Regions from separate parts of the Homo sapiens genome. Here region 1 is linked to region 2. Evidence: fine-mapped expression QTL. A gene starts in region 2. The other region holds a variant in brackets. All regions are shown on one strand. Distances are from middle to middle. Region 1 overlaps RAB11FIP3 (RAB11 family interacting protein 3). Region 2 holds the start of RAB11FIP3 (RAB11 family interacting protein 3).

What was found. PIP is the estimated chance that this variant, and not a neighbour inherited with it, causes the effect. A credible set is the group of variants that fine-mapping cannot tell apart.
Region 1: its variant is the best candidate, but not a certain one, in a credible set for the expression of RAB11FIP3 in whole blood (TOPMed, PIP 0.59).

The regions. Positions count from the first base shown.
Region 1 is chr16:499,888-505,251 of GRCh38, reverse strand. It overlaps RAB11FIP3 (RAB11 family interacting protein 3), which reads right to left. Exons shown (of 14, transcript NM_014700.4): 7 at 2,155-2,248. Among named protein-coding and RNA genes, the nearest start is that of LINC00235, 25 kb to the left of the region's middle. The variant C/T (reference allele first, on the strand shown) is at 2,804.
Region 2 is chr16:423,170-428,533 of GRCh38, reverse strand. It overlaps RAB11FIP3 (RAB11 family interacting protein 3), which reads right to left and starts at 2,885. Exons shown (of 14, transcript NM_014700.4): 1 at 1,814-2,885. The coding sequence starts at 2,527.

The sequences.
Region 1 (5,364 bases), 77 kb before region 2:
GCTGGCTGGTGGGCAGCAAGACTCAGCCCCCCAACACACAGTTGGGTCTCTGCTCAGCCAGATGCAGCTCACAGAGGCAGCCCAGGTGCCCATGGATGCAAGGGACAGACAGATCCATGTCTCGGTCCCTCCCTCAGAGAGTTCACACCAAGATGAGAATCAGACACCTGCGGAGGTAGGAGAAGGAGTGAAGGGAGCAGAGGAGGACTTGGCCTGGGTCAGCAGACTTGAGATGCTAGAGAAGTTGTAGGGAGGAGGTGGTGGGGATGCAAGAGGAGGTGAAGTACAGGAGGAGGTGAGGAGGTACAGGAGGAGGTGAGAGAGTACAGGAGGAGATGGGGGTATAGGAGGAGGTGGGGGAGCAGGAGGAGGTGAGGGGGTACAGGAGGTGAGGGGTGCAGGAGGAGGTAAGGGGGTACAGGAGATGAGGGGGTACAGGAGGTGAGGGGGGTACAGGAGGAGATGGGGGTGCAGGAGGAGGTGAGGAGGGTGCAGGAAGAGGTGAGGGGGTATAGGAGGAGGTGAGGGGGTATAGGAGGAGGTGAGGCGGTACAGGAGGAGGTGAGGGGGTACAGGAGGTAAGGGGGGTGCAGGAGGAGGTGAGGGGGTACAGGAGGAAGTGAAGGGTACAGGAAGAGGTGAGGGGGGTACAGGAGGAGGTGAGGGGGTACAGGAGGTGAGGGGTGCACAAGGAGGTGAGGGGGTACAGGAGGAGATGGGAGTGCAGGAGGAGGTGAGGGGGTACAGGAAGAGGTGAGGGGGGTACAGGAGGAGGTGAGGGGGTACAGGAGGTGAGGGGTGCACAAGGAGGTGAGGGGGTACAGGAGGAGATGGGAGTGCAGGAAGAGGTGAGGGGGGTACAGGAGGAGGTGAGGGGGTACAGGAGGTGAGGGGTGCACAAGGAGGTAAGGGGGTACAGGAGGAGATGGGAGTGCAGGAGGAGGTGAGGGGGTACAGGAGGAGGTGAGGGGGGTACAGGAGGAGGTGAGGGGGTACAGGAGGAGGTGAGGGGGTACAGGAGGAGGTGAGGGGGTACAGGAGGTGAGGGGGTGCACAAGGAGGTGAGGGGGTACAGGAGGAGATGGGAGTGCAAGAGGAGGTGAGGGGGTACAGGAGGAGGTGGGGGGGTACAGGAGGAGGTGAGGGGGTACAGGAGGTGAGGGGGTACACAAGGAGGTGAGGGGGTACAGGAGGAGGTGAGGGGGTACAGGAGGTAGTGAGGGGGTACAGGAGGTAGTGAGGGGGTACAGGAGGTGGTGAGGGGGTACAGGAGGTGGTGAGGGGGTACAGGAGGAGATGAGGGGTACAGGAGGAATTGAGGGGGTACAGGAGTAAGTGAAGGGGTCACAGAAGGTGAGGGGGTGCAGAAGGTGAGACGGAGTCTCCCTCTGTCGCCCAGGCTGGAGTGCAGTCGTGCAATCTCGGCTCACTGCAACCTCCACCTCCCAGGTTCAAGTGATTCTCCTGCCTCAGCCTCCCAAATAGCTGGGATTACAGTTGCCCGCCACCATGCGTGGCTAACTTTTGTATTTTTAGTAGAGACGGGTTTTCACTATGTTGGCCAGGCTGATCTCAAACTCCTGACCTCAAGTGATCTGCCCGCCTAGGCCTCCTAATGTGCTGGGATTCCAGGCGTGAGCCACCACATCTGGCTGAAAAGCGGGTCTTGACCACGGCAAGGCTGCCTTGCCCTGGCTGCTGTCACCCATTCCATTCAAGGCCCCAGGAGAAGCCCGTTCCTCAGGCTGTTGGCTCTGCAGTAACTGCAGGGCCAGCCCTTTTCTCCCAAATCATGGGTGCCCCAGGTCGCGTCTCCATGGGCCTGGTGGACTGAATGTCTGGGTGTCCCCCAGCCCGACTCAGACACAGTGGGGGTGGGATACCCGAGGGTGCTCACTCACTGCCCAGTCCACTCCTCCCAGCTGGCCCTTCGTGCACAACAGGAAGACTCCTTTTTCTCACATGGCCACGAGACCCCTTGGGGAAACCTGCCAAAGAGCATCGGGGCTGGATGGACAGTCTGGGGAGCCCTGGAGGACATGGGGTCACCTCCGGCTGTGCTGTCCCCACCTCCCGGGGTGTCTGCAGCGGCCCTTAGGCGTGGCTGTGTTCTAAATCCCCTACTTGCCACCTACCCAGCCCTCCAGGGCCTACCTTGTCAGCAATGTCCTCCTCTGGGCCCTCCATGAGCTCGGGGGAAGGGTCCTCCAGGGCCTCCATGGTCAGGGCCCCTGACTGGTGCAGGTACCTACAGAAAAGGCACAACAACAGAGGGAAGAAAGGGAAAAACCACAGGACATGCTCCGTCAGCACAAGCACTCCCAAGTCAATCTGAAAAGCAGGCAGCAGCATTGCAGGGGACAGGTCCTCCCCTGATCTGGGTGGTGGTCTTCTCCCACTTAAAGCACTATATACAGGGGGAGGTCCCAGGCTGGACATCTTTACCAGGGGCTGGGAGAAAGCAGGCCGTGCTCTGTGGTCTCAGAGTCTTCCTGGCGCTCTTTGGAACCTGACAGAACATGACCTCAGTCCCAGCCAGCGAGTGGCAGAGAGGACTTTGTACTTGGCTGCAATAAAACATGCCCTTCTTCGCAGAGACACGAACAATCTCGTCTCTACCAGAGGCCTGTGAGACATCAGCTCAGGACCTTGACCTGCAGACACCTCCCCTGTGCACATTCTTGATCTCAGACTTTCACAGGTGCTTTCTGTGGCAGGAAGAGTGAGGGTCCCAGGAAAGGTGTGGATCCCAGAAGTCTCACTCAGTGTCACCCTCACGGACACACTGGGAAACTGGTCCGAC[C/T]GAGTCCAGGAAGACAGCAGACACACGTGTCCTCTGTGGCACCAGCTCCTGTGGACACGCCCCCAGCACCGCAGGCCATGCCAGTTACTACCCGGGCCAGGCTCGGGGACACAGCCTCATGGTCCTGAGTAGACGCAAAGGCCCATAGGCTGCGGCCTTGGGGCAGGAGCTTCTCCAGGGAGTGTGAACTTAGGCGCGCAGTAAGCGCGTGCTTGTGGTCACCACGTGGTCAGATTCGCTGTGGTGAATCTGTACCAACCCAAACTTGCCGGGAGTACAGAAAACTCTCAGAGCACTCGCACAGAAGAGCCAACAGCAAAGGTGCGTGTTCAGTTCTTTATACATCCTGGGAACCTCAGTACCAAGCCAGGCTCCAGGCTGACAGCCTGATGCTCAGAACTGCGTGACCGTTAAAAAGCACTGGCCCTCTCCGAGCTTCCTTGCCTATGAAATGGGGGGACCCTCTCCCAGCCTCCTTGCCTATGAAATGGGGGGACCCTCTCCCAGCCTCCTTGCCTATGAAATGGGGGGACACTCTCCCAGACTCCTTGCCTATAAAATGGGGGGACCATCTCCCAGCTTCCTTGCCTATGAAATGGGGGATCCTCTCCGAACTTCCTTGTCTGTGAAATGGGGGGACCCTCTCTGAACTTCCTTGCCTGTGAAATGGGGGGACCCTCTCCCAGCTTCCTTGCCTATGAAATGGGGGACCTTCTCCGAACTTGTCTGTGAAATGGGGGGACCCTCTCCCAGCTTCCCTGCCTATGAAATGGGGGGAGCCTCTCTGAACTTGTCTGTGAAATGGGGGGACCCTCTCCCAGCTTCCTTGCCTGTGAAATGGGGGGACCCTCTCCCAGCTTCCTTGCCTATGAAATGGGGGACCCTCTCCCAGCTTCCTTGCCTGTGAAATGGGGGACCCTCTCCGAGCTTCCTTGCCTATGAAATGGGGGGACCCTCTCCCAGCTTCCTTGCCTATGAAATGGGGGGATCCTCTCCGAGCTTCCTTGCCTATGAAATGGGGGGACCCTCTCCCAGCTTCCTTGCCTATGAAATGGGAGACCCTCTCCGAGCTTCCTTGCCTATGAAATGGGGGGACCCTCTCCGAGTTTCCTTGCCTATGAAATGGGGGGACCCTCTCCCAGCTTCCTTGCCTATGAAATGGGGGTCTAGAGGCAACTGAGGTTTAACCAAGGTCATGCATACAAACAGCTTGGCTAGGGACGTAGCAGAGTAAGAATTCCATAAAATGTTAATATTTTTCCACTGAAAATGTCTACCAAGTGTATGAAGTTCGATTTGCTTCTCAGTACGGACTGGGCTTGAACATTTCCATCTTTTTCCCCATAAACGCTCTGAGGAGACAAGCCCTGTGAACGTGCACCAGCTGGAACACACCGGTGCCCTTCTGGGGCTCTGGGGATTTCATCAGATTCTCAAAAGCTGCTGCTGATACAGATCATGTTCTTGGCCAGTCGCTGCTCTTAAACGCCCATGACCTTGCCCCCAAACATGAGCCACTCCAGGCATGAAGCTGCAACCCAGAGCCCATCCTGAGAGGCCACGACCTGTCAGCACTTCTGAGCTGTCCTAGAGGCGTAGGCACTTCTGGGGCTGACTCGGGGACACAGCCATCCCCAGGCACCCAGCGTGCAGCCACCACACGTGGCCACCAACGTGAGGCAGAGGGTCCTCAGCATGGGTCATGCGGCTGCTTATTTATTTACTTATTTAATTTTTTTTTTTTTTTTTTTTTTTTTTTTTGCGACAGAGTCTTGCACTGTCACCTGGGCTGGAGTGCAGTGGTGCAATCTCAGCTCACTGCAACCTCTGCCTTCCGGGTTCAAGCCATTCTCCTGCCTCAGCCTCCCAGGTAGCTGGGATTACAGGCACCTGCCACCATGCCCAGCTAACTTTTTGTATTGTTTTTTTTAGTAGAGATGGGGTTTCACTATGTTGGCCAGGCTGGTCTCAAACTCCTGACCTCGTGATCTGTGCGCCTCGGCCCCCCAAAGTGCTGGGAGTACAGGCGTGAACCACCGCGTCCGGCTGGGGCTGCTTATTTAAATCCCCTAGAAAGAGGGATTCTCCAGCTACACCACACCCTCACTTGGAAGGACCCTCCTCCCAGAGAGGGAGCTGTGGAAAAAGCCTGACCTGCCCCACAGGGCAGTAGGTCGAGCCTGGCTGGTGAGCAAGGAGGTACGGGGATCCCTGAGGCCTCCCACCCAGGGCCCAGGGAGCCTGCCTGCTGTGAGCACTTCCTCCAGTCCTGATGGACTCGGCTCTGCCCGGAGCCCCCGGTCTCTGCACACACAGCTGACTGGAGAAAGCCACTTCCATCTCATGGACAGGGACAGAACAAGGCTGAGGGAGGTGAGCAATGCAGCCAGGCCCGGGGGCTACAATGGCTGCTGGCAAAACCCACCATCTCAGCAATAGTTCAGCGCGAAGGGCTGAGAACTGTGAGAAGCGAATCGCGACGTTTATTTTGCTCTTCCTTAGCCTCTTGTGGCAGATTTGGGGCAAAACAACAGATTAAATCTTGTGTACATATATTTACA
Region 2 (5,364 bases):
ATCCTGAGCCTCACAGAAGTTCTCTATCAAGAGTTGGGTTATGGTAACAAGGAGCAAATGTGGTACTCTCCTAACTTCTTTGCTGTACTGAAGCAAGAGTATGTTTGGGAGAAGAGACAGCGCAGTAGCCAACAGCAACCAAGGGAGCTCAAGGTGCTCTCCAGCCCAGGGGCAAGAAGGAAACGCAGCAAAACACCTGGACCAGCAACCACCATCCACGCTGACCATACAGGAAAGTATCAGTCACATATTTCACTGCCCATTAGTGTAGGTGGAAAACTACCCTGACAATATCCCAACCGGAGCTAAGCTTGCGAGCATTGCAGGCTGCCCCGCACGCACCTGTCTGCACATCTTCTTAATGTGAACTCAGCAAGGAACCCTGATTTATCAGGACCCTGTGTTTTTTGTTTTGTTGCTGTTTTTTTTTTTTGAGACGAAGTCTCGCTCTGTCGCCCAGGCTGGAGTGCAGTGGCGCGATCTCCGCTCACTGCAAGCTCCGCCTCCCGGGTTCACGCCATTCTCCTGCCTCAGCCTCCCGAGTAGCTAGGAGTACAGGTGCCCGCCACCACGCCCGACTAATTTTTTTGTATTTTTTAGTGGAGACGGGGTTTCACCATATTAGCCAGGATGGTCTCAATCTCCTGACCTCGTGATCCGCCCGCCTCGGCCTCCTAAAGTGCTGGGATTACAGGCATGAGCCACCGCGCCCGACCATCAAGGTTCTTAATGTTATGACTGACACCCTAAATAGCAGTGTGCCAATTTTACCTCTTTTCTTACAGACCTCTTGGCTTAAACATGCATATGTACTTGAACACCCACTTACCAGATGTCTGCATGTGTGAGAAGTCAAAATACAAAAAATTGACAGATGCACCTTAGGGATTTCCTGCTAAGTAAAATATTTAAAAGTGAGCACTGGTATTATTTGATGTCCACCGGGTTATTGGCAGAACACACACGGCCCTGCTGTTATCTCCACTTAAACTTTATTAAGTGCTGAGGTAGACAGGAACAACTGCATCTTGGGGCCCACCTTTCCCCCAGGAGCAGGTGCCCTGAGGACCGCGTGGACCCCTTCCACACTGTACTGTGCGTAGTGCCTGTCCACGCATTTCACCTCTCCTACGAGAGTGGACGTGGCCCTAACGGAGTTCTGCTAGACTTCTGCATTTGCCAACAAGCTCCGAGGCTCATTGCCTTCCTCCCCAAAGGCACCAAAGTAAAAATTCTTAATTCCAGGACTCTCTACAAGCATTGACTGTCTCCCAAATAAAAGATGAAATCTAAGTAGAAAAGATGTCAACCACACACAGTAAAGTAATTGTACTCAAAATAGGTGTCTATCAGTAGGATCTCAAGGCGTCTGGGCAGCCTGGCCTCTGCGGCTAGAACTTGGGTGAATTCAGCCGAGCAGTATCTGGGCCCTCGGGTGGGGGAATCGCGGGGAACTTCTTCATTCAGGGGCACGTCGATCAGGCACCCTGGGGGGGTGGCGATCAGGCCCCCTGGGGGGGTGTCCCCAGGCGAGGAGCTGACCTCGGTAAGATCCAGCTGACGAGGCGCTGGGGGGAGGGGAAGAAACTGACTCCCCAGAATAGAACCTCCTTTTAAGAAGGGAAGAGGGACTCCAGCGCAATTCAACCAGAAATCCAGGGCCGAAGTGGTGAATAAGCAGAAAAAGCAGGACCGTCAGGTCTTGACAGTGCCTTTCCCGACTCCAGGGGCAGCGTCGACCGGTCCCACATCAACCCCGCCGGCCAGCGCGCACCTGCCCAGTTCCCACGCCCCGGCCCGGGCCGCTCCGTACCTGCTCTGCCCCGTAGACCGTAGCAAACTGGATGAAGTCCTCGATGCGGACGAAACCGTCCCCATCCCCGTCCAGGGCATCGAACACGGCTCGGAGGCGGGGGCCGTCCTCCTGACTCCCCACGGGCTCGCTCGGAAGGGGGTGGGTCTGGCTGAGGTCCGAGGGCTGCGGCGGGGACCCGGGACCTTGCTCCAGCGCCAGCTCGCCCGCCGTGGGCGCGGGGAAGGGAGAGAAGACGTCGACCTCGCCCCGCGCTCGGTGGCTGCTGCTGGACCCCTGCAAGCGGAAAGGCGCGCTCTCCGGGCAGCTCGCGGGGCCACACTCCTCGGGCTCCTCAGTCCAGGAGAACAACGGGTCGAGTTCTGGAAGCGGCGCTTCGGAGCGCGGCCCTGGGCCCGGGGCGTCGGGGCTCGCAAGCTGCCCCCGCGGGCCGGAGCGCGGCGGCGGGGCGGACGGCCCGGGGTCTCGCGGGCCTCCCTCCAGCCCCGGGGCCGGCCCGGCGCTCCAACGCGCCCCGCCATCTGCAGCGGCCCCGGGCGCAGGCTCATCCAGGCCCGGGGACTGCGGGTCGGGGCCGCCGACGGGCGCTCCGAGGCGTAGCTCCGCAGGGCCCGGAGCCAGTTGTGCCGCCCCCGGCCCGTCCGGCCCGCCCGGCTCCGGGTCGGGCCCCGGCGGCTCCGAGCCCGGGGGCGAGGCCGGCGGGGCCGACGCCATGCTCCCGAGAGGCTAGTGGTGCGGAAGGGCGCGGGCGGCAGACAAAGGCGCTCAGGGCGCGGCGGCGGGCGCGGGCATCCCCTCGGCGGCGCGGGCGGGCGCGCGCGGGGCGCCCGGGCTGCTGGGGCTGGCGCTCGGGCCCTGCTCTGTCCTCGCCCATCTTCGCACCGCGCCTCAGCTGCCCTCGGCCCGGCGGCGCGGCGGGCGCAGGCCCATGGCGGCGGGGCGGCCTAGGGAGGGCGGCGAGGATCCGGGCGGCGGATGGCGGGGGACGGGGGCCGAGGAGGCCGGGGGACGGGGGCCGAGGAGGCCGGAGGCCGCGGAGCCTGTGAAGCAGGATGAGGAGACTAAGGAGGCTGAGGCGCCTGAGGTACCCGGAGAACTAACGCCGCCGCCGCCCAGGCCCCGCCCCCCGTCGGGCCTGACGTCAGCACGTCCCGGCGGGGTCCCAGCCCCTCGCCGGCTTGCTGTAGAGGCAGGCGCCGGGTGTGTCGCGGCAGTGCAGCGGCCGCGAAGGGGTGTTTTGCTGTATGTCATATTCCTCGTTTCGCCAGAGCGGGGGTCCCGAGCTTCGGGCGCGGGACGCGGGGGTGCTCCGAGGCTGCGAGTGGAGGCGTGACGTGACGTCCCTGGCAAGAGGCGCGCGGAGTCAGGCCTTACTTAGAACGTGTTCCCGCCGCACAGCTACCAGCGGGCGCGACCGCTACCCACGCATGGTGCGGTCGAGTAAACGGCACCGCCTGGCGAGCGAGAGACGCAAAGGGACATAGCCCCCTAGGAGCTGAGCTCTTCGGGGGTAAAGCGTTCTCACGTTGATGAGACCAGGAGGCGGCGCACGCCTGGCTCCGCGGCCCAGGGGTTGCAGGTGCCCCAGGGTTCGCGGGGCGCAGACGCCGCAGAGGGCGACGCCCTGCCCGGGTCCCGCGCGGACCCGGGGGACGCAGGGTCTGACACGGAGTGCGGAGGGGCCCCAGACACGCAGTCCATGTCCCTTGAAACCAGAGGCACGCGCGGCCACGCGCTAGGCCTTTCCCTTAAGCCTGTGACCAAGATCTCCGGGACTCCCAGCGTTGGGACGGGCGCGCTGGCCCACGCCCAAGCGGGAGGATCGCTTGCGCCCAGGAGATTGAGACCAGCCTGAGCACCAAAGCGAGACCTCGTCTCTACAAAAAATAAGACTCAAGAAGACACCCAGGGTGAATCGCCCGTCTGCAGCCAGCCTCCCGAGCACCGTGGCCGCGTCTGACAACTGACCTCTGTGTCTGGGTGTCCCTGTCCTCAGAGGGACACGGGACCTCAGAAAGGACCACAGCCCGGCGGCAGGCATGATGGTGGGAAAGCTAGTTAGGACAGGTGAGGCACTAAATTTAGCCTGTCATAATTTGTATCAGGGAAATGATGAACTTGTATTTTTACACACCATGGGCACCAACACAAGATATGGTTTCGTAAGCAGCTTTGGCAAGAACCAAAGGAACGGAACCTCTGCTTCCAAGTGTACGGTCAGGAGCAGCGTGTTAATTAAGTGAGTCATCTTCCGTGGCAGAATCCCAGGGTACATGGGACCAGACTTCGCGAGGCTGGCATTAGGAAAAGGAATGTGAGGGATCCTCCTCCCCAAACCGTATTCTCATTTTCTTGTAAGAGCTGTACGTGTTCATGAGGAAGATACTGCATTCAAAGAACGAAATCACCAGCAGCTTTGGCAAGAATTCAAATTTGGGCTGATGCCTTCGGCCGGATAAAATTTTCAGAAGCAGTGATAGTGATGTGTCAACCTTTCTAAATAGGGGTGTTAGTGTGGGCGAGGCAGAGACAGCAGGCTCCCTCTGCTTTTATGTGCCGGCGCTGCCAGAGGCAGAAGGCTGGCTTTCTGAGAGCAGGGGCCCGCACGCTCTGTCTGTGCTAGGGCTGGAAAACGTCCATTGCGTGCCCGGCTGGTGTCCTCCATGGAACCACAGCCTGGAAGCCTGCACCTCCCTGCCTGGACCAGTTAGAGGCTGTTCATGAAAGACTAAAGGGACAAGTTCCCGTCTATCCGTCTGCTGTTCAGAGCTACTATCTGTGTCCCCTTTGTAGGCTGTGGGCTGTAGCAGTTCCTTCTTTTCTTTTCTTTTCTTTTTTTTCCCCGAGACAGGGTTTTGCTCTGTTGCCCAGGCTGCAGTGCAGTGGTGCGACCATAGCTCACGGCAGCCTCAACCTCCTAGGCTCAAGAGATCCTCCCACCTTAGGCCAGGTGTGGTAGCTCATGCCTGTAATCCCAGGACTGTGGGAGGCTGAGGCGGGCGGATCACGAGGTCAGAAAATGGAGACCATCCTGGCTAACACGGTGAAACCCCGTCTCTACTAAAAATACAAAAAAACAAAAATTAGCCAGGTGTGGTGGCAGGCACCTGTAGTCCCAGCTATTTGGGAGGCTGAGGCAGGAGAAAGGCGTGAACCCGGGAGGCAGAGCTTGCAGCGAGCCAAGATTGCACCATTGCACTCCAGCCTGGATGATAGAGCAAGACTCCGTCTCCAAAATAAAAAATAAAAATAGAAGAGAGATCCTCCCACCTCAGCCTCTCCAGTAGCTGAGACCACAGATCTGCAGCACCTTATTATCTTTTTTTTTTTTTTGATATGGAGTCTCACTCTGTCGCCCAGGCTGGAGTGCAATGGCGCGATCTCTGGTCACTGCAACCTCCGCCTCCCGGGTTCAAGTGATTCCCCTACCTCAGCCTCCTGAGTAGCTGGGATTACAGGCGTATGCCACCAAGGCCGGCTAATTTTTTGTATTTTTAGTAGAGACCGGGGTTTCACCATGTTGGTCAAGCTGGTCTCAAACTCCTGACCTC